Linked DNA regions of Homo sapiens: all the other regions are linked to region 1. The links come from fine-mapping of genetic effects on gene expression. A gene starts in region 1. Each other region holds a variant in brackets. All regions are shown on one strand. Distances are between the middles of the regions.

Region 1 (5,605 bases):
AAAGTCAAGCCTAAAATCATGGGATATAGTGAAAAGAACACTGGACTAGGCATCAGGAGTTCGAGTTATTCCTACCTCATTTTGTGAACCCCCCCCCCCAAGCAAGTTACTATATATTTAAATTTATTTACACCATACGTTAAATAGGACCTCTCTATATCAACCTTAAAGTGCTAGAGTAAGAATAAAATGAGATGACAGATGGAAAGTGCTTTGAAAAAGTAGATTCTTTTACAGCTCTGGATGTCCATGATTCCCATCCATCCAATGAACATGAGCACTTACTATGCATTACATGTTGCAGAAACAAAAATGAGTAAAATTCAGCAATTGGAATGAAATGGAGTTTTTTTGGTTTCTTTTTTGTTTTTTGAGATGGAGTATTGCTCTGTTGCCCAGGCTGGAGTGCAGTGGCATGATCTCGGCTCACTGCAACCTCTACCTCCCAGGTTTAAACGATCCTCCTGCCTCAGCCCCCCTAGTAGCTGGGATTACAGGCACATTAGCCTGTATGCCCAGCTAATTTTTATATTTTTAGTAGAGACAGGGTTTCGCCATGTTGGCCAGGCTGGTCTCAAACTCCTGACCTTAGGTAATCCAGCCGCCTCGGCCTCCCAAAGTGCTAGGATTACAGGTGTGAGCCACCACGCCTGGCCTGAAATGTAGTTTTAAAAGCTTATAAGGTTGACTGGGTTTGGTGGCTCACTCCTGTAATCCCATCACTTTGGGAGGCTGAGACAGGCAGATGGCTTGAGCTCAGGAGTTTGAGACCGGCCTGGGCAACATGGTGAAACCCTGTCTCCACTAAAAACACAAAAAATTAGCCAGGAGTGGTGGTGTGTGCCTGTGGTCCCAGCTACTCAGGGGCGTGGGGGGCTGGGGTTGGAGGATCTCTTGAGCCTGGGAGGCGGCTGTTGCTGTAATCCGAGATCATGCCATTGCACTCCAATCTGAGTGTCAGAAAGAAACCCCGTCTAAAAAAAAAAAAAAGTTTATAAAGTGATTGGGAAGCATTTTTCTGGATATGCAATCTGTCCAACTTTGCCATCAATCATAAAACGTTTCATTGCTTACTAATTGCTTACTACTCCAAAGCTGAAAACTATTGTAGAGGCGGTGAGGATACAGAAGTGTAAGATTACTGTGGTCTTCTAATAATGTAGAATCTAGTGTGGCAGGGCTGGACGCGGTGGCTCACGCCTGTAATCCCAGCACTTTGGAAGGCCGAGGCAGGCGGATCACGAGGTCAGGAGATCAAGACCATCCTGGCCAACAAGGTGAAACCCCGTCTCTACTAAAAAATACAGAAATTAGCTGGGCGTGGCGGGTGCCTGTAATCCCAGCTACTAGGGAGGCTGAGGCAGGAGAATCTCTTGAACCAGGGAGACGGAGGTTGCAGTAAGCCGAGATGGCGCCACTGCACTGCAGCCTGGCCACAGAGTGACACGCCGTCTCAAAAAAAAAAAAAAAAAAATTAAAACTTTTGTCTTGCAGTACCTGGACTGGAGATCAAATTCTGATGTTAACTTACCGTTTGATCTTTGACAAGTCCTTTAGCCTTTCTAAGCCTGTTTCCCCAGCTGTAAAATGGGAATAAAATACAGTACTGTCCCTCCAAAAAGAAGCTGAGGCAAAATCAGGCCAAGCTTGAGGACTGCAACCCAGGACCATAGATTCAAGCTGCCCTGAATATACACTCGGATTAGCAAGTTACAAGTAGGTTTTTAAAGGAAAAGAGGCAGCTCCTAAATTGTTTACCAATTTACATTAAAATATCGTGGGCTCTTGACTAGCTATACATTGTTCTTTGTATCTTAAATTTCAGAAACTTAAAGATAATGCGTAGGCAGCTAATCAGGAACAAAATGCCTTTAAACAATTGCCCCAGGCATTAGTAGTGAAAGGAAGAGAATGACAGCCTGCCTACTTCGCAGAGCTGAGGTCTGATCTATTTTTCTTAGTACCTATTCGTAAGGGTTGTTGTGAGGTTAAAGTGAGACAATCTATGTAAAGAACAGTTCCTGGAACATAAATGCTTGATAAATTATGGCCACAATTCTTTTTTGTGGTTGAGCAGTGCGGGGAGATCGCGAAAAATTTCTATTTACGCGCAGCTAACAAAATACTCTATGTTGCAGAGCTGTTTCACTTTCTCCCTTTGAGACGCAAGCCGGCTTGCCGCCTCCTCAAGTAACCAGGCACAATGTTCTGATCCCAAAGTCTCACAATCCTTCAAGTATGAAATCAGTAAAAACTCCAACTTCCATTTATGGATTTACGGAGAACTTTTTATACATCGAGGGGCTAATTCAATCAGTAAGTCACTTTGATTTTTACTCTGATCACCGAGACTAATAAGCAGCGATGCCGAACCAAGTAAATGAAAGAATCGTGAGCCATACTTCAGTAGATAAAATTTAAATGTAGACTGATTTTCTTCACGATTGCTAGGGAAGAAATCCTTACAGCGTACTTAGAAATCTTTGTTTTAAAATGATAACGCTGTTATGTTGGGCTGAAAATAAAACGGATACTTCCCCAAGGTCAGCAGCGGAGGAGGCAACCGTGGCCTTGCCAAAGTCATCCCCTCTTCCCAGCCCCCGTTCTTCCTGCCGCCCTCCCCCTGCCCCCTCCCTTCCCCACCCCCATCAACAAACTCCGCCGGGACATTTCAGTACCACCACTCCCTAGCCCGGCGAAGCGCAGGGGCGTGCTGGGGAGGAGTAAAGAGGGTGGGGCGGAAACCCAATTTCATTGTTCGCGGGACCGATTCTTCCCAAAAGAGCTCGCTGGCAGCGCCTGCGCAGTGCGCCCTCTTTGTGCCAGGCTGCAGCAAGCTGGTTGTTTGTGTGTGTCTACCCGAAGCTGCGGAGGCGGAGCGAGGGGGCGTGGCCTGCCTTGTCGCACTCTAATTGGGCTTTCGCAGGAAAGTGGGCGGGCGCGGGGCGGAGCTTCCGATAACAACACTCGGAGCTGGGGCTGTGGCTATTTGTTGCTGCGCCGCCACCGCCCGAGTCATGTTCCGCGATCTTCTCAGGCTCTCCTAGCAGCATCCATCGCCGCCACCCTATCTTCACTGGCTTCATTCACCTTCTCCTTCTCTCTTCGTTGCTGAGCGACAAGCTTCCTAGCGCTATGACTGTCGTCTCCGTCCCGCAGCGGGAGCCGCTCGTCCTGGGTGGCCGCCTTGCGCCGCTTGGCTTTTCCTCCCGAGGTTACTTTGGGGCCCTCCCGATGGTGACCACGGCTCCGCCTCCTTTACCCCGGATCCCGGACCCCCGGGCACTGCCCCCGACCCTCTTCCTCCCTCATTTCCTAGGGGGAGATGGCCCGTGTCTGACCCCCCAGCCTCGCGCTCCAGCAGCTCTGCCCAACCGCAGCCTCGCCGTGGCGGGAGGCACTCCTCGGGCAGCGCCGAAGAAGCGGCGAAAGAAGAAGGTGCGGGCCAGCCCCGCAGGGCAGCTGCCCAGCCGCTTCCACCAGTACCAGCAGCACCGGCCGAGTCTGGAGGGCGGCCGGAGCCCCGCGACCGGCCCGAGCGGAGCGCAGGAGGTCCCGGGCCCGGCCGCCGCCTTGGCCCCGAGTCCTGCAGCCGCAGCCGGCACGGAGGGAGCCAGCCCCGACCTTGCCCCGCTGCGGCCCGCGGCTCCCGGCCAAACCCCCCTCAGGAAAGAGGTGAGGCCGCCAGGGGGCCGTTGGGGAGTCGGGCCCTTAGACGGTCGCGGCCGAGCTCTGGGGCTGCAGACCCTGCACCCGGGGGGTCGGGCGGGTGGGGGCGGGGTGGGGGGGGCGGCTGTTTACTCGGGAGGGAAGTTTCCGTGACGCCCGCTCCATTCTTGCTTTGGGGGAAGAAGGGGGAAGGGGAGGCATGCGCTGGCGCTTCTGATTGGCTCCCAGGAGTCGGCCAATGAGAAGCGCCGCTGCGCCCCAGCAACAGCCCCGATTTAGAAGGCTGGCGGCGTTCCAGGGGGTTTCGGCGTTCCGGGCGCGCGGCGGGGTGGGGGCAGGGACAGGGCCCGCGGGAGGGCTGACGTCAGCGCGCGCTACGTGCCCGGCGCTCCGGCGCCCATGAAGGAGGCGAGGCCGGGTGGGGGCAGCTGGGGAAGGACTGGGCCCGGCTTTCGGCCTCCCGGCTATCGGGAGCCCCAGTCCTAGTCGGTGAAACGCGGAGACGGCCTCTAACGTCCCGCCGTAGGGGGTGGAGTGGGCTCCGAGCGGCTGGGTTTCGTTTGGTTGGAGTTGTGCCAAAATGTGAGGTGCCCGGTGTGGGACGCGCAGTCCAGTTGGGGCTCTGCCCGCCTCGGGCCTGACCTACTTAGTGGTTCCAAGTTAAGAGTTGGCAGGAGCCGCACAAAACTGATTTTATTACTTTTGCCACTGTGGTACTTCGTGTTAGTGTGTCCAGAGTAAGTTTTCAGAAGAGTTAGCAATTGAATTGACTTAGCCCGTCTGATTGCAGTGCTATTGCATTAGGATAAAATGGATAGAAGTTTAAATAGGATTAAGTCTACGAAATGATTTCAAAGTCTTGTCAGAATAACGTTTTATGGACTTAAGTTCAATGACTTAATCTTCGTAATAATGAAATGAAAAAGTTCCCGTTATTTAGTGAAGAATGTTGCATTGAATTAGAGATTTGCGGTTTATCTGTGCCCTTGGGAAAAAATTTGCCCACCTTGTTTCTTTAAATTATCGTCTCAATGTCTCCCTTTTAAAATTCCACGACTTTTGAAATATCCGTGATTACCTAAAAGCTTTTGTGCTTGTTTCCTGGCCTGTTTTCTAGAACAGGTACTAACTAGGGAGCTCTGGCAGTGAACCTTATTGACGTGGAAAGTTGTGGTCCTCTTTCGTGTCGTGTCTTGCTTACTACCGCGTTACAAGTGTTGGTAGTGCAGTGATCTAGTGGATTACCTTACGCTTTTCCATCCTTTCAAGACTTCCTATAAGGCCCACTTAAGTTGGGAAAGATTAAGGTGAGTGAAGCAGCGTTCTTGAAGCAGTTACTAAACCAGAAAGGAGGTACACAGCAAAGATTGTTTCTGGCACTCGTATTTGGAAGAGAGCTCATTAGTCTTCCTTACAGTTGTAGAAAGGTGGACTTGGGTTATTTCAGACTTTTTTTAGTTTGACATTTTAGAACTGGTTCACGTTGCATACTGGTAACTAGCAGTGGTGATTAACTGCATTTTTAGTGGCGAACAAGAGTGAACTTAAAAGTCAAGGGAAATTTAAGTTTTTTGTTGTTTTTTTTTTCTTGAGACAGAGTCTGCCTCTATCGCACTCCAGGCTGGAATGCAGTGGCACGATCGATCTCTGCTCACTGCATCCTCCCCTTCCCAGGCTGAAGGGATCCCGCCTCAGCCAGCCTCCCGAGGCGCGTGTTACCACGCCGGGCTGATTTTTATATTTGTAGTAGACATGGGGTTTCGCTATGTTGCCCAGGCTGGTCTCGAACTCCTTGAGCTTGAGCGATCTGCTTGCCTTGACCTCCCAAAGTGCTGGGATTACAGGCGTGAGCCACCATGCCCAATTAAAGTTTTTGTAATTTTCAGCTTTTATTTTAGATCAAGGAGGTACTTGTGCAGGTTTGCTACATGGGTAT
Region 2 (5,605 bases), 32 kb before region 1:
TCAGCCTGTAATCCCAGTACTTTGGGAGACCCAGGAGGGCAGATCACTTGAGGTCAGGAGTTCAAGACCAGCCTGGCCAACATGGTGAAACACTGTTTCTACTAAAAATTCAAAAATTAGCCAGGTGTGATGGCTCATGCCTGTAATCCCAGCTACTCGGGAGGCTGAGGCAGGAGAATCACTTGACCCAGGAGGCAGAGGTTGCAGTGAGCTAAGATCACACCATTGCACTCCAGCCTGAGTGACAGAGCAAGACTCTATCTCAAAAAAAAAAAAAAAAGGTGGGGGAAGTGTATTGGCCTCTAATCCCAGCTCCAGCAATTACGGCTTCTTCCTAGGCTTTTGTGTCCCTGTGTGAGAAACATGGACCAGAAGTGCCATCAAGTTCTCGCTGTCCCTGTTCTTCAAATGAGGACGTGAAGCCATGGAGATGGAAAAGTATGATGGTGGGTTCCTCTGAGGCTGTGTCAGAGGAGACAAGAGTGGATACTGAGGATGATTCATTAATCTTTCTTGGCAAAGAAAATTTTATGTGATGACTAGAAATTTGTTTACTCATACACAAATTCCTACCGAAACAGTCGAGAGGAGAGAAATAGCACATTGGTACAAATGTTTTTTCTTTCTGTAAGTCAAATAATCAACATTTCAGACATTTCTTAGAAAGTCTAGTAAATAGATTTATTTTCTTTTTTTTCTTTTTTTTTTTTTTTGACAGAATCTCACTCTGTCACCCAGGCTGGAGTGCACAGTGGTGCGATCTCAGCTCACTGCAACCTCTGTCTCCCAGGTTCAAGCGATTCTCCTGCCTCAGCCTCCTGAGTAGCTGGGATTACAGGCGCCTGCCACCACGCCCGGCTAATTTTTGTATTTTTGGTAGAGACAGGGTTTTGCCACATTGGCCAGGCTGGTTTCGAACTCCTGACCTCAAGTGATCAGCCCACCTTGGCGTCCCAAAGTGCTGGGATTACAGGCATGAGCCACCATGCCCGGCCAGATTTCTTGAAAGTTGTTTTAAAAGTGGTTATATTTCTTAGGCCTAGGATTAAGGGGTAGTTTTTATTGTTTAGTCTTTTTATGTCTGCTCTGCATCTTTCACCAATAATTAATAGAGAATCAATAAGTATTAGTTCTTTAATCAGGTTTTTTTAAACGAAATAAATGGCTTTAATTGTTCAAAAAGAAGGCAACAGAGGGAAAGAAACTTAAAAACTAATAATGGTGAAAACCGGCATTAGGCTGGGCACGGCAGCTCATGCCTGTAGTCTCAGCTATTCGAGAGGCTGAGGTGGGAGGATCACTAAAGCCCAGGAGGTCGAGGCTGTAGTCAGCCGTGATCATGCCACTGCACTCCAACCTGGGCTACAGAGCAAGACCCTGTCTCAAAAAAAAAAAAAAAAAAAGAGAAAGAAAAAAATTATTTTAATTTTTTCATAAATTTTTTAAAAATAGAAACAGGGTCTCAGTATGTTGCCCAGGCTGGTCTTGAATTCCTGGTCTCAAGCGATCCACCCACCTTGGCCTCCCAAAGTGCTGGCATTACAGCCACCATGCTTGGCCTGAAAAAAAATTAATAAATAAAAAATAAACTGACATTTACTAAGTTACATTTATTTCCTACTGAGTAGTACTGACTCATTGATTCCCCTCTCAACTCTGGAAAAGAAGCTGTTTATTATCCCCATTTTATATATAAGAAAAAGCAGAGAAAAGTTCAATGCTTCTGCCGAGGTCACAGAGCTAATAAATGCAGTCACTGGGGCTTCAACTAGACGGTGAAGTTCGGGGCCCCTGCTATTTATTATTGTGCTCTATTTTCTCCTAGATGATCTAAAAGTTAAGCATACTTGGTTTGGAAAACATGTAATCTTAGAGAACAGATTTATCATGCAAACTACATTTAAGTTAGTACTACCCGAACTTACATTAATAGAAGGCTGAAGGAGAGTAGTTTGAAACTGTTGTAGGTTTGGGATTTAAATTTTGCTAAGGATAAACCAGAGTAGATAAATCAACTCTGTGCTAGGGTTAATCGTATAGCCAACATTGGTTTATGTCAACAATTAGATTGCTTTGTATGGTACCTCAAAAAAAGTTGAAAGGTGATTAGAATTGCTCAGGAAAAGGCTGGAAAGATTACAAACTGCCAATCAGCTTCAAAAAATGAATTTAAAAATAAAAGCACAATCTATCCATGGAACAGGATTCCATCAGCACAGAAAACGATCAGGGAAAAACGGAGTATGTGCACACACTCTCCCCCACCCCCAAGAAAAGCTTCACTGACACCATCTCATTTTGTGTAAACAACACAGTTCCTGTCCTACCCTCA[T/C]TGAGGAACCTCAGCTACTTTAGGGCTTTTAAATGTTGGTCTTTGTCCTCTCATCCTCTACTTCCTCACTTTTCAATCAGTTCTCCTCCTATGGCTGGATCCATTTAGCTGCTTATCACATTTCAGGAAACTGAAATAATCATAAAAGTGATTTCATGACCCAGAACTGAGGACAGACCTCACCCCTCACGCTCAATAAATATTTGCTGGATGGATGAATAATTGCTACAGCCGTGGTTCTTCTAGACAAGGAATTTCACCTTATATCCCAGGGTAGGAAAAGACACAAGACTGCAAGATGCAAGAAAGATTGCCTCCACTAAATAAAACAGGTTCTGGGCTGGGCCAGGTGGCTCACGCCTGTAATCGTTAATACTTTGGGAGGTTGAGGTGGGCAGATCGCTGGAGCTCAGGAGTTCAAGACCAGCCTGGGCAACAAGGCGAGACCCCATCTCCACAAAAAATAAAAAAATTAGCTGGGTGTGGTGGCATGTACCTGTAGTCCCAGCTACCTAAGAGGCTGAAGTGAGAGGATCGCTTGAGCCTGGGAGTTCGAGGCTGCAGTGAGTTGTGATCCCACCACTGCACTCCAGCCTAAGTGATAGAGCGAGACTGTCTCAAAAAAACCAAACAGGTTCTGATGGGGAGTGGGAGTGGGGAAGCTTGGGGTTTGGCAAGAACTGGCTATACTTTGCAACAAGTCAAATCTGGGTTCAAAACCTGGCTCTGCTCCTAGAGTATGACTTCACTTTATTTTCTCTACCTTGAGTCTCAATTTCTCCATTTAAAACGCCTTTTAGGGATGCTGTGAGTTTGGGTATGATGGGAGAGGCATTCATCCAGTTTCCTCCTTGATCCTTATCTTCATTCCCACTCCAAGAAGGAGCCCCTAATCTGATGAGTCATTCCAGGGACACTGATTGGGCCACATGAGAGGGGTTGTCTTTCTTCATCTTCTCGGAAGGCCAGAATTTTCTGGCACCCTCAGAAAAAGACCCGCCCTTTATTTCCCTCTCTAGCCCTGTCTTCTTTCTTGAATGCAGGCTGCATGTGATCAGTGACCAGTTCTTCACTCTTCTGCTTTTCCCTTCCAGGTAGCCTAAGTGGCAAAGAGGATGGGAACTGTTTCCTTCAGGAGAAAAAGACCTGCATCCTGTTTTCATTGCCTCCTGGGGTCTTCTTTTCAGTCTCCTTTCTCCCATGTGGTCATCTGGGTGGTAACACTTGGGTTTAGATTGAATGGGAAGGAAGAGTCTAATAGAGCCATTTTTGCCTGAGTTCCCTGCCTCAAGGCTTCAGATACAGTCCAGCAGCAGTAAAACGTTAATGCAGCCAGATTGAAATTTTATCACACTACATCTCAGACATGCAAATAAAATGTTTGAAATGGAACTTAAAATTACCAATAAAAGTATCTCATTCTTCGGACTTAAGTTCTCATTCCAGCCAATAACTCCCCATTAGAGCTGTTTCTCTCCCTTTGTCTTTTCATCCTTTAAGATGGTGTTTGAAGGGTGGTGCTTAAGTGACTTCATGGTGGCTCATAGCCCATGCTTTTCTCCTCTGGATGGTTGCCAACCTGTGCTGCAAAGATGCTGCTGTGCTCTTGTCCCTGAGCTGCCAATCCTAAGATCTGCTCTCCTTGCTCTCTTCCTTACCCCACCTCCATGGCTGGAACTTGTCTTACATCATATCTGCCTCCTTACCAAGATGAAATTTGTAAACACCACTTCCCAGGAGGGCTACTAGCAGAATGGCTATTGGGGAATAATTTATGGAAGAAAGAAAGAAAATACAGGCATATACACACAAACTCACGCATACATACAGTTCTTGTCACATTACTTTGATTTCTTTTTCTTTTTTTCCTAAATTTTTTGTAGACAGGGTCTCACTCTGTTGCCCAGGATAGTGTTATACTCCTGGCCCCAAGCAATCCTCCCATCTCAGCCTCCCAAAGTGCTGAGAATACAGGCATGAGCCACCAAACCGGACCCCATTATACTCTTTTATCGTCTCTCAGTATACCCCAGTAGGATGTTCAGGGATTTTCTGTTTTGTAAGCCCAGTGTTTGGAAGAGTGTATGGCACAGAGTACGTGCTCAATAAATATTTGTTGAATGCATGAATGGTGGGTCATATCTGCTGTGTATGGATTTATCCAGTTCAATTCTCAGGGGCAATCTTATTTCCCTTATCCCCAGGTGCTTGCAGAACAGCACGCAGAAGCTTATGTACTGCCCACAACAATCACCAACTTGGACGTGGTAGTTGAAGCAATGAGTCTTATGAGGTCCCTCAAGATGAGCGGGAAGAACAAAGTGGGGCCAAGAGTAGCTTAGAGTAGCAGTTCTCAAACTTTCAATCTCAGAACCCCCTTACAACTTTTAGAAATTGTTGGGGACTCCAAGGCATTTTCTTTACATGGGTTATGTCAATATTTATTGTATTAAAATTAAAACAAAAATTTTAATTTTTTGCAAATCTCTTGACAGAAGGGAGCTGGATTCTCATACCTACATCTGCATTCAATCTATTGAGATGTGTTTTGGTTGAAATCTGACCTTATACAGATAGGTGATTGGAAAAGGGAGGACCTCAGAGATCCCAGGGTTTCTCTGACCACGTTCTGAAACTGCTGTCCTAGAGCAATAGTTGCTGCAACAATGACAACAATCTTCTCTGCAACACAGCCCTCAGCCCTCCGGGAACCCCAGATTCTAATATTGGCACAGAATCCCAGCCTCCAGCCTCTTTGCTTAGAATTGCACAATTTTCCAGTAATGTATGAAACAGCTGGCAGCCTTGCGCAGGAAAACTGGATAGAGGTGAGTCCCTGAGGGAGTATGTTTGTCCTGGGTAAAAGCAAGTGGACTAGACATCCTAGAAAAGGATTGACACTTGAAATCCTAGCATTTTGGGAGACCAAGAAGGGAGGATTGCTTGAGCCCAGGAGTTTGAGACCAGCCTGGGCAACATAGCAACACCCTGTTTCTAAAAACAAACAAACCAAAACCCCAAGAAAGTGGGGTGTTGAGGAAAAGAAAACACATCATGCATTCTCAGGAAGGAGAGACAACAGCTTAAGAAGCTCAGGTACATTAATGAACAAACATGTCTCAGTGCCCAGGCTGAAGAAGAAACAATGAAGCTCAGCCTGCTGGGTGTGTGTGGAAGGAGCTGGCTCTCAGAAGGGGAAAAGTTGGTGACATAATTATATATCTACCTCTGTAACTTCCTGAGTCTAGCTGGCAGAGCCACAGCTTTGCCCAC
Region 3 (5,605 bases), 36 kb after region 1:
CCTCCCAAAGTGCTGGGATTATAGGCGTGAGCCACCGCACCCAGCCCAATTTTTTCTATTATTAGTAGAGATGGAGCTTCACTATGTTAGCCAGGCTCATCTCGAACTCCTGACCTCAAGTGATCCACGTGCCTCGGCCTCCCAAAGTGCTGGGATTATAGATGTGAGCCACCGTGCCAGGCCCCAAAGATTTTGTTTATAAGCATACTAAATGTTAAAGCCTATTTATTTATTTATTTTTGAGACAGAGTCTCACTCTCACCCCCGGAGTGCAGTGGTGCCATCTTGACTCACTGCAGCCTCGACCACCTGGGCTCAGGCGATCCTCCCACGTCAGCCTCTCAAATAGCTGAACTACAGGTGCGCACTACCACACCTGGCTAATTTTTGTATTTTTTGGTGAGACAGGGTTTTGCTATGTTTCCCTGGCTGGTTTCAAACTCCTGAGCTTAAGTGATCTACCCACCTCAGCCTCCAAATGTGCTGGGATTACAGGCATGAGCCACTGTGCCCTATCTTTAAAGCTAATTTTAAAAGTGTCTACATGTCACATTGCTAGTTAACTTATACTGTATACTACTTTGTACTAAAAGGTTAATACAGATTACATGTGATGATTCTAATTTCATATCATCACTCACCTGCTATTCGATCTTAGGCAAAATACTTAACCTAAACGTTGATTTCTCATCGGTAAAATGGGGTTAACAAAGAACATACGGCCAGGCGCAGTGGCTCATGCCTGTAATCCCAGTGCTTTGGGAGGCCAAGGTGGGCGGATTACCTGACATCAAGAGTTCGAGACCAGCCTGGCCAACATGATGAAACCCCGTCTCTACTAAAAATACAAAAATTAGCCAGGCATGGTGGCACACATCTGTAATCCCAGCTACTCGGGAGGCTGAGGCAGGAGAACTGCTTGAGCCCAGGAGGCGGAGGTTGCAGTGAGCCGAGATCGTGCCACTGCACTCCAGCCTGGCTGACACAGCAAGACTCTGTCTCAAAATAAAACAAACAAACAAAAAAACCACCATACATTATAGGGTTACTGCGAAAATTTAATATATGTAATGTTTTTAGTATGGCACCTAGTACACAGTGAGTATTCAACAAATGTTAGAGATTTCATTCATGTAATATAATCTTGTAGATTTTGATTGTCTGCCAGTGGCAAAGCTAAAAAAAAAAAAAAGTGAAAAAATGGAAAAGGAAATCAGTCAATCTCAACTATCAGTCTCAATCACTCACTGGTGAATGAAGTACATAGATCAGAGATCAGGTGTCACCTGCAGATGTGTTTTATTTGGCCTGCATGACGTTTAAACATTTTTAAAATGCGTATAAATATGAAATTGCCAATATTTTACTGCTTTTATTTTTTTAGTTTTTGAGACAGAGTCTCGCCCTGTCGCCCAGGCTGGAGTGCAATGGTACTATCTCGGCTCACTGCAACCTCCACCTCCCGGGTTCAAGCGATTCTCCTGTCTCCGCCTCCCGAGTAGCTGGGATCACAGGCACGCACCACCATGCCTGGTGAATTTTTTGTATCTTTAGTAGAGACGGTGTTTTACCATGTTGGCCAGGCTGGTCTCAAACTCCTAATTTCGTGATCTGCCCACCTCGGCCTCCCAAAGTGCTGGGATTATAGGCGTGAGCCACCACGCCCGGCCACAGCTTTTATTTTTTTAGACTCTCTAAAGGTCTCTCTGTCACCCAGGCTGGAGTACAGTGATGTGATCATCGTTCACTGTAACCTTGACCTCCCGGGCTCAAGTGACCTCCCGGGCTCCCACCTCAGCTTTCCCAGTAATTGGGACTACAGGTGTCATACACCAGGCTACATTTTATAGCTTTCTTTTATTTATTTATTTTTTGAGACAGAGTCTCACTCTGTCGCCCAGGCTGGAGTGCAGTGGCCTGATCTCGGCTCACTGCCAACCTCCACCTCTGGGGTTCAAGCGATTCTCGTGCCTCAGTCTCCTGAGTAGCTGGGATTACAGGCGCCAGCCACCACACCTGGCTAATTTTTGTGTTTTAGTACAGACGGGGTTTCACCAGGTAGGCCAGGTTGGTCTCGAACCCCTCACCTCAAGTGATCCGCCGAACTCGGTCTCCTAAAGTGCTGGGATTACAGGCGTGAGCCACCGCGCCCAGCCTTATATTTTACAGCTTTCAAATCTACAAATGGGGTTTTCTTTTTTCTTTCTTTTTTTTTTTTTTT[T/C]TTTTTTGAGACGGAGTCCTCGCTCTGTCTCCCAGGCTGGAGTGCAGTGGCGCGATGTTGGCTCACTGCAAGCTCCGCCTCCCGGGTTCACACCATTATCCTGCCTCAGCCTCCTGAGCAGCTGGGACTACAGGCACCCGCCACCACGCCCGTCTAATTTTTTTATTTTTAGTAGAGACGGGGTTTCATCGTGCTAGCCAGGATGGTTTCCATCTCCTGACCTCGTGATCCGCCTGCCTCAGCCTCCCAAAGTGCTGTGATTACAGGCATGAGCCACCGCACCCGGCCACGAATGGGATTTTCATATGATTCAACTTAATGCATCTAAAGACTAAGATTACACATACAAAATCCAGATTTCTGATTTCTCTTTACAACTAGTAAGATATATCAACAATAAGTCCAGATGTCTACATGGCAGCTGTCAGCTGGAGCCTAGAGGCAGATGCTGCACCTTTTAGATGGCATATTTCCTTTTCTATTTGCTATTCTATTTCTATTTGATAGTCCACACCATCCTACTGTGCCTTATAGGCTGGCAGCTTCACTCGTTTATATTACCCCGGCTGGCCCCTGTGAACCATTAGAATTGGAAACCTCTGATTTTTCTACAGACACCCTGAAGAGGCTTGATGCTTATTCCATTTTCAAGTTGTCTGTTCAACTGCAAGGTTTTTTAATTCTGCCCAAATCATAAATTATGTTCGTGTTTTCTATGTAATATATTGATAAAAAGGCTGACAGAAGAAATGTAAACAAGGCACCTTTTAGATGTTAACTAAGATATATTAACCACAACATATAGTTGTGATACATGTACTTGCGGTGATCAAATAAAAAATACTTGGCCGGGCACGGTGGCTCATGCCTGTAATCTCAGCGCTTTGGGAGGCCGAGCTGGGCGGATCACTTGAGGTCAGGAGTTGGAGATCAGCCTGGCCAACATAATGAAACCTCATCTCTACTAAAAATATAAAAATTAGCCGGGTGTGGTGGCACACGCCTGTAATCCCATCTACTTTGGATGCTGAGGCAGGAGAATCGCTTGAACCCGGGAGGCAGAGGTTGCAGCCAACCAAGATCGGGCCATTGTACTCCAGCCTGGGGGACAAGAGCGAGACTTTGTCTAAAAAAAAAAAAAAAACTAAAAAATAAAAAATACTTAACGTTTATTTACTCCTCAAAGGTAAATTATAATACTCATCTCAGATGACTATGGAGTCAAGAGCTCCATGTATCTATACCTCTCTGGCCCCAGGTAAATCATTAAAACTCTTAGTTTCCGCTCTCCCTTATGTACAATAAAACAGTACTGCATAGGTAGAAAGGCTGGGGGGAAGTAAATGAAGCCCAGTGAAATGAGAATGTCTATTAACACCGTTCCCTCTCCCCCCGCCCCCAATTTCTTCAGCTCCATTAAGGAAGGAAGTGCTATATGAAAAAGTCATTCCTTAGTATCTGTGTTCAGACACTCTGTAGACAAAATTCTCAACGGAGGGGTGGGGCATCAGAATCAACCAGGTGAGCCTATACTCACGCCCTTAAAAAGGGTGTTAATACTGGACTCAGAACTTTAAAGAAAAACGCACTGATCTCATTCATTGAAGTTATTTTTTGTATGCAGAATAAAATTGTGTGAATAAAATGCAAGCAGCACCGTCTGTAAGTAGACCAGAACTGGGGGAAAGAAACTGTAAGGCCCGAGTACGCATTATGGTACAAAACGTTCTCACCAGCCCCAATTCCTCTCCATCTAGGAGGGTTGGATGCGCGCGATTTTATCGGGGCACGGCGACAAAGGAGCTGAAACGCGGGCACTCGCTGGAGCGCAAACCCTCCCGACTCCCGGCGGGGAGCGACCTGAGCTCGGGAGAGGGGCGCCCCGTGTCCCACGGCCCGCCGGCTGCGGTGCTGAACCGCGGAAAGCGACGCGGGCCCGGGACACGATGTGCGCGGCGCCGGGGCTGAAAGCTGGCCGGGAGGGCGGAGGCGCGAGTTCCGCCCTGGGCCGCGGAGTAGTCCGAGGGCTCACACCTCCCCAAGTGGCGCAGCCTGGGCCCGCGGGGAGGCTCCGCGCAGCTCCCCCGAGCCTCCGCCGGGCCTCGGCCGTGCTCCGCGGCGCGGCTGTTACCCCGCCCCTCCTCCGCGCCCCCAACCTGCAGCCGCGGCCGTTCACCTGGTGGCGTCCGCGACGTTCCTGATGAACAGGGAGGTGTTGGGGGGCCTCGTGTAGCGAGACATGACCGCTTCCTCCGTTCCCTCCGGGTCTGCCCGCGGCCGCTGGACTCGCTCCGTCTCCCGCTACCGCTGCTACCACCACAGGAGCTCCGCCGGCCCCCGGCGCGACCCCCACCCCTCGGCCTCAGCCCCGCCAGCGCGCAGCCGCAGAGGCCGGCGCAGAGGGGGCGCAGCGCGGCGCCAGCCTGGACGCACGGGCCGGGGGCGGGGGCGGCGCCGGCGCGGCCCAGGGGCCGCGGGAATTCCGAAGACAGGAGCGCGGCCGTTCCCAGGCCCTATGGGATCCGGGTATGGGGGGTCCTGGAGTGCGACGGGATTTGGGGAGGGGGCGGCGAGGGCCAGTGTATGTCAGGAGGGCGGAGGCCAAGAGGGGGCTTGAGGCCGCGGCGGGGACGCCGGGGGTTAGAGGACCCAGAGGTGGTGGCGGGGCTGCGGCTGGGCGGAGGTGGGGTCAGTGAGAGCCGCTTTCAACCGCGCCCCCGCTCAGCCTCCGCGGCCCTCAGCGCATCGTCCTGAGCGCAGGACCTTGGCAGTTGGTAGGCCTCCTGCCCCTCTGGTCTTGAGCCTTCGGCTTTCCAACTGTGAGGTCTCGGTTTTGTTCGGATTTGTTTTTTTAATAGAGACGGGGTCTCGCTGTGTTGCCCAGGTGGTCTCAAACTCCTGGGCTCAAGCCTCTCCCGCCTCGGCCTTCCAAAGTGCTGGGATTACAGGTGTGAGCCACCGCGCCTGGCCTGTTGGATTTTTAAGTATTATATGATTCTTCATCCTTTATTCACTTGGGGCATAACACTCAGCTGTGAGTACATTCATTCAGATGTTTATTGAGCGTCTACTATGCGCCAGGCACTTAGCGTGGGATATAGCAATGAACAAACAGGCCAAGCCCCGCCCTCTGAGCTTACATTCTAGAGGGGGGACAAACGAATGTACAAATGAATACATGATGTAGAAGACAACAGTTTAAATGCAGGGACAGTTAAGCAAAATTTAAATTACCCTCTCCCTATTCCCCCAAAATGTTGTAGCCCATCCCCTTCTAGTTAGACTCGTCTTCGCCTTGCTCCTGTGGCCGGCAGGCACAGCCTGTTATTCAGGGCTGGGAGTGTAACCAGGCAACTCCTAAGTGTGAAGAGTGCCCCTTTTCGC
Region 4 (5,605 bases), 45 kb after region 1:
ATTAATTTGCCATTTGCTTAGTGTTGATCTATTGTATGTGAAGCACAGTGCTAGGAACTGGGGATGAAAATAGAAGTTATGCTCCTTAATTCTCAAGGACCTAGTCCATTGTTTCCCAAACTTAAGTCGTTTTCATCCATCCTGTGAGATTTTTGCCATAATGATGTACTTCTTTACCATAATATGTTTACTTTAAATTAGCTCACTTTTATTTAAAAAGAAAGCTCTATCACCAATATTAATTTTTAAAGTTTTATGGACAGAAGGAGAGCCAGGCACAGTTGCTCATGCCTGTAATCTCAGTGCTTTGGGAGGCTGAGACAGGAGGATTGCATAAGGGCAGGAGTTTGAGACTAGTCTGGGCAACATACGATACCTCATCTCTAATAAAAATAAAAACAAATTAGCTGGGCATGGTGGTGTGTGCCTGTAGTCCCAGCTACTCAGGAGGCTGGAGCACAAGAATCTCATGAACCCAAGAGGTGGAGGTTGCAGTGAGCTGAGATCGTGCCACTGCACTCCAGCCTAGGCAACAGAGTGAGACTGTCTCAAAAAAAAAAAAAAAAAAAGGTTTATAGACAGAAGGAGAGCCAGGCACAATGGCTCATGCCTGTAATCCCCGTGCTTTGGGAGGCTGAGGCAGGATGATTGAGGCCAGGAGTTCAAGACTAGTCTGGGCAACATATGATAACTCATCTCTAGTAAAAATAAAAACAAATTAGTTGGGCATGGTGGAGTGTGCCTGTAGTCCCAGCTACTCTGGAGGCTGAGGTGGGAGGATCACTTGAGTCCAGGAGGTTGAGACTGAAGTGAGCTGTGTTCGTGCCACTGCACTCTAGCCTGGGCAATAAAGCAAGATCATGTCTCAAAATAATAATAATAAACAAAACCATGTTGGAAATTCCAGCCGATTACTTTTGTCTGCGCAGGCTCCAAGCCTGCTCTCTCTTATAAAAGGGAAATTAATCACTCAATATAGAGATGTTGAAGACATACTGGCACAAAACTAAAACTTTCTCCCTAATGTAAATATGGAAAGGGCCTAGTCTGGGCAACATACGAAACCTCATCTCTAATAAAAATAAAAACAAAGTAGCTGGGTATGGTGGTGTGTGCCTGTAGTTTTAACTCTCACACTATGCAATTCCACATTTAATGTCTCATCAGTGTAACATATAAAACTAAATAGTACCACCACTGGTGAGTATCTTTAATTTTTGAGAGACGTTCTTGCTAGAGATAGACACGTATGTAAATAAGTCATTATAATATTGTTTCATTAGTGCCACATAAAGGTATTTCGGAGTAGTATGGAGGATATAATGGAAACAGATTAGTTCTCTGGCGGGGAGTACTAGGAGTTATTTTAGAGGAAATCAATGTTTGTGCTATTTATTGGATTAAATTCACCCAGGAATAAAAAAAGCAAAGTGAACTCGATGAGCAAAGGGACATTTGTGGTGAGAGTAGTGTAGTGTTGCTGAACTAGGGGAGAAGGAAGGAAGAATGCTAAAGAGATTGGAATGGAGATTTAGAGCCAAAGTTGTTTTTGTTGTTGCTGTTGTTGTTTTTTTTTTTTTTTTCAATTCGGGGTCTTGCTTTGTTGCCCAGGCTGGAGTGCAGTGGTGCAGTCATGGCTCACTGCAGCCCCAACCTCCTGGACTCAAGCAATCCTCCCACTTCAGCTTCCCAAGTTGCTGGTGCTACAAGTGTGTACCACCATGCCCTGCTAATTTTTAAATTTTTTATAGAGGTAGGTCTTGCTATGTTTCCAGGCTGGTCTCACACTCCTGGCCTCAAGTGATCCTCCTGCCTCAGCCTTCCAAAATGCTGGGGTTACAGGTATGTAACCCCACTGTACCTGGCCCCATCAAGATTTTTTAAGCAGGAGATTAAGATCAGATTTGTGTTTAATAAGGATATTCTGACAAAAATGTGGAGGATGAATTGGAACAGTAGAGACTGGTACAAGCAGATCAGTTAAAAGGGTCTTGTGTGTGATATATTTTCTCTTTTAAAAAGTATTTCTCACCGGGCGCGGTAGCTCACGCCTGTAATCCCAGCACTTTGGCAGGCCGAGGTGGGCGGATCACGAGGTCAGGAGATCGAGACCATCCTGGCTAACACGGTGAAACTCCGTCTCTACTAAAAATACAAAAAATTAGCTGGGTGTGGTGGCAGGCGCCTGTAGTCCCAGCTACTCAGGAGACTGAGGCAGGAGAATGGCGTGAACCTGGGAGGC[G/A]GAGGTTGCAGTGAGCCGAGACCGCGCCACTGCACTCCAGCCTGGGTGACAGAGCGAGACTCCGTCTCAAAAAAAAAACCATTTCTCAGCTGGGTGCAGTGGCTCATGCCTGTAACCTCAGAACTTTGGGAGGCCAAGGCAGGTGGATTACCAGAGGTCAAGAGTTCAAGACCAGCCTGACCAAAATGGTGAAACCCCGTCTCTACTAAAAATACAAAAAAATTAGCCGGGCGTGGTGGCGGGTGCCTGTAATCCCAGCTACTCGGGAGGCTGAGGCAGGAGAGTCTCTTGAGCCCAGTAGGCGGACGTTGCAGTGAGCCAAGGTCGCACCATTGCACTCTAGCCTGGGCAACAACAGCAAAACTCTGTCTCAAAAAAAAAAAAAAATTCTCAGCCAGGCACAGTGGCTCATGCCTGTATTCCCAGCACTGTGGGAGGCCCAGACAGGCGGATCACTTGAGGTCAGGAGTCCGAGACCAGCCTGGCCAACATGGCAAAACCCCATCTCTAGTAAAAATACAAAAATTAGTTGGGCATTGGGGTGGGTGCCTGTAGCCCCAGCTACTTGAGAGGCTGAGACAGGAAAATCACTTGAACCTGGGAGGTGGAGGTTGCAGTTAGCTGAGATCATGCCACTACAATGCAGCCGGGGCGACAGAGTGAAACTCTGTCTCAAAAAAAAAAAAAGTAAAGTATTTCTTGGCTGGGCATGGTGTCTCATGCCTGTAGTATCAGCACTTTGGGAGGCCAAGGCAGGAGGATGGCTTGAGCCCAGAAGTTGGAGACCAACCTGGGCAACAAAGTGAGACCCCGTCTCTACAAAAAATTAAAAAGTTAGCCAGGTGTGGTGACACGCATCTGTAGTCCCAGCTACTGGGGAGGCTGAGGTGGGAGGATCACTTGAGCCTGTGAAGTTAAGACTGCAGTGAGCCATGATTGCACCACGGCATTCCAGGCTGAGGGACATAGAAAGACCTGTCTTAAAAAAAAAAGGCCTGGCATGGTGGCTCACGCCTGTAATCCTAGCACTTTGGGAGACCGAGGCGGGTGGATCACAAGGTCAAGAGTTCAAGACCAGCCTGGCCAAGATGGTGAAACCCCATCTCTACTAAAAATACAAAAATTAGCTGGGCATGGTGGCAGGCGCCTATAATCCCAGCTACTCGGGTGGCAGAGAATTGCTTGAACTTGGAGGTTGCAGTGAGCTGAGATTGCGCCACTGCACTCCAGCCTGGGTGACAGAACGAGACTCCATCTAAAAAAAAAAAAAAAAAAAAGGAGTTATTAGCATTGTCCACTGAAAAGGCTTAGAAACAATGACCAGCCCAGTACCATTTGGCACCCCTTATGGCCCAGACCATACTCCCTAAATATAATTTTGTCTTAAAATAAACAATGACTTTTTGGAAGTGTGGCTGATTCCATGCTTGAGGGAAAAATGTACACAATGAACCTAAAATATCTTGTCATATCAGAAAAAAGTTATCAAAAGCTTCTGGGGTCATGTGAAAAGGATTCCAAAGACAATCCTGGCTAGAGATAAGACAATTTGAGTAGCAATAAGAACAATAACTGCAATGAATTAAAACATATCAAATATTTTTAAGTGCACAAGTTCATAATTATACTAAAAAACAACCCTAATTGGTCACCTTTGGATCCTAACTTTCCTGTATAAATTTATTCCTCAGGGTAACCCAAATGGTTGATGAAGGAAGTTTTGTTTTGTTTTGTTTTTCTAAAAGTATTCCAGTCAATAAAATAAAGAGGAGATGATAGAATTATAATGTCATAATTTTGCAACCCCTAATGAAGTAGTGGGTCCAGGCAATGGCCATAAATGACTGCTAAATTAATACAAAGAGAAACATCCATTATATGCTCTTCTGAAGGAAGTTCACATCAGTACCTGTGAAATGCTTTTTTTTTTTTTTTTGAGACGGAGTGTCACTCTCTTGCCCAGGCTGGAGTGCAGTGGTGTGATTTTGGCTCACTGCAACCTCTGCCTCCCGGGTTCAAGCAGTTCTCCTGCCTCAGCCTCCCGAATAGCTTGGATTACAGGCATGTGCCGCCAAGCCTGGCTAATTTTGATTTTTGGTAGAGATGGAGTTTCACCATGTTGCCCAGGCTAGTCTCAAACTCATGACCTCAGGTGATTCACCCATCTCAGCCTCCCAAAGTGCTGGGATTACAGGCCAGAGCCACTGCACCTAGCTGAAATGCTCTTCCAAAAACACTGAGTCTAGCCTAGCTCAGCATTGGTTAATAGAACTTTCTGTAATAATGGAAGTGTTCTATATCTGCACTGTCCAATACTGTGGCCACTAAACACATGGGACTATTTAAATTTAAAATAAAATTTTAAATTCATTTAGTCCTGTTGTGGGAAGTCAGGGACCCCCAAATGGAGGGACCGGCTGGAGCCGCAGCAGAGGAACATAAATTGTGAAGATTTCATGGACATTTATCAATTCCCAAATAATACTTTTATAATTTTTATGCCTGTCTTTAATCTCTTAATCCTGTTACCTTCGTAAGCTAAGGATGTACATCACGTCAGGACCAGTGTGATAATTGTGTTAACTGTACAAATTGATTGTAAAACGTGTGTTTGAACAATATGAAATCAGTGCACCTTGAAAAAGAACAGAATAACAGCAATTTTTAGGGAACAAGAGAAGATAACCATAAGGTCTGACTGCCTGCTGGGTCAGGCAAAAAGAGCCATATTTTTCTTCTTGCAGAGAGCCTATAAATGGACATGCAAGTAGGAGAGATATTGCTAAATTCTTTTCCTAGCAAAGAATATTAATATTAATACCCTTGGAAAGGAATGCATTCCTGGAGGGAGGTCTATAAACGGCTGCTCTGGGAGTCTCTGTCTTATGCAGTTGAGATAAGGACTGAGATACGCCCTGGTCTCCTGCAGTACCCTCAGGCTTATTAGGGTGGGGAGAAAACTCCACCCTGGTAAATTTGTGGTCAGATCAGTTCTCTGCTCTCAAACCCTGTTTTCTGTTGTTTAAGATGTTTATCAAGACAATATGTGCACTGCTGAACATAGACCCTTATCAGTAGTTCTGCTTTTGCCCTTTGCCTTGTCATCTTTGTTGGACCCTTATCAGTAGTTCTGCTTTTGCCCTTTGTCCTGTTCCCTCAGAAGCATGTGATCTTTGTTCTGCTTTTTGCCCTTTGAAGCATGTGATCTTTGTCCCTACTCTCTGTTCTTACACCCCCTCCCCTTTTGAAACCCTTAATTAAAAAACTTGCTGGTTTGAGGCTCAGGTGGGCATCATGGTCCCACCAATATGTGATGCCACCCCCGGTGGCCCAGCTGTAAAATTCCTCTCTTTGTACTTTCTC

The links.
Region 2: its variant is fine-mapped to the expression of PNRC1 in whole blood (TOPMed, PIP above 0.99).
Region 3: its variant is fine-mapped to the expression of PNRC1 in whole blood (INTERVAL, PIP 0.97).
Region 4: its variant is fine-mapped to the expression of PNRC1 in whole blood (INTERVAL, PIP 0.97).

What each region holds. Positions count from the first base shown.
Region 1 is chr6:89,077,760-89,083,364 of GRCh38, forward strand. It overlaps PNRC1 (proline rich nuclear receptor coactivator 1), which reads left to right and starts at 2,992. Exons shown (of 2, transcript NM_006813.3): 1 at 2,992-3,675. The coding sequence starts at 3,136. It overlaps PNRC1-DT (PNRC1 divergent transcript), which reads right to left and starts at 2,821. Exons shown (of 1, transcript NR_187250.1): 1 at 2,403-2,821. RefSeq lists enhancers at 2,097-2,186, 3,705-4,665 and silencers at 2,617-2,826, 2,877-3,026, 3,417-3,796.
Region 2 is chr6:89,045,280-89,050,884 of GRCh38, forward strand. No RefSeq gene overlaps it. Among named protein-coding and RNA genes, the nearest start is that of PNRC1-DT, 32 kb to the right of the region's middle. The variant T/C (reference allele first, on the strand shown) is at 2,333.
Region 3 is chr6:89,113,426-89,119,030 of GRCh38, forward strand. SRSF12 (serine and arginine rich splicing factor 12) reads right to left here and starts at 4,646. Exons shown (of 5, transcript NM_080743.5): 1 at 4,398-4,646. The coding sequence starts at 4,462. It also overlaps a transcript of PM20D2 not described here. RefSeq lists a silencer at 4,230-4,499. The variant T/C (reference allele first, on the strand shown) is at 2,222.
Region 4 is chr6:89,123,170-89,128,774 of GRCh38, forward strand. It overlaps a transcript of PM20D2 not described here. Among named protein-coding and RNA genes, the nearest start is that of SRSF12, 7.9 kb to the left of the region's middle. RefSeq lists an enhancer at 5,221-5,515 and a silencer at 5,221-5,515. The variant G/A (reference allele first, on the strand shown) is at 2,243.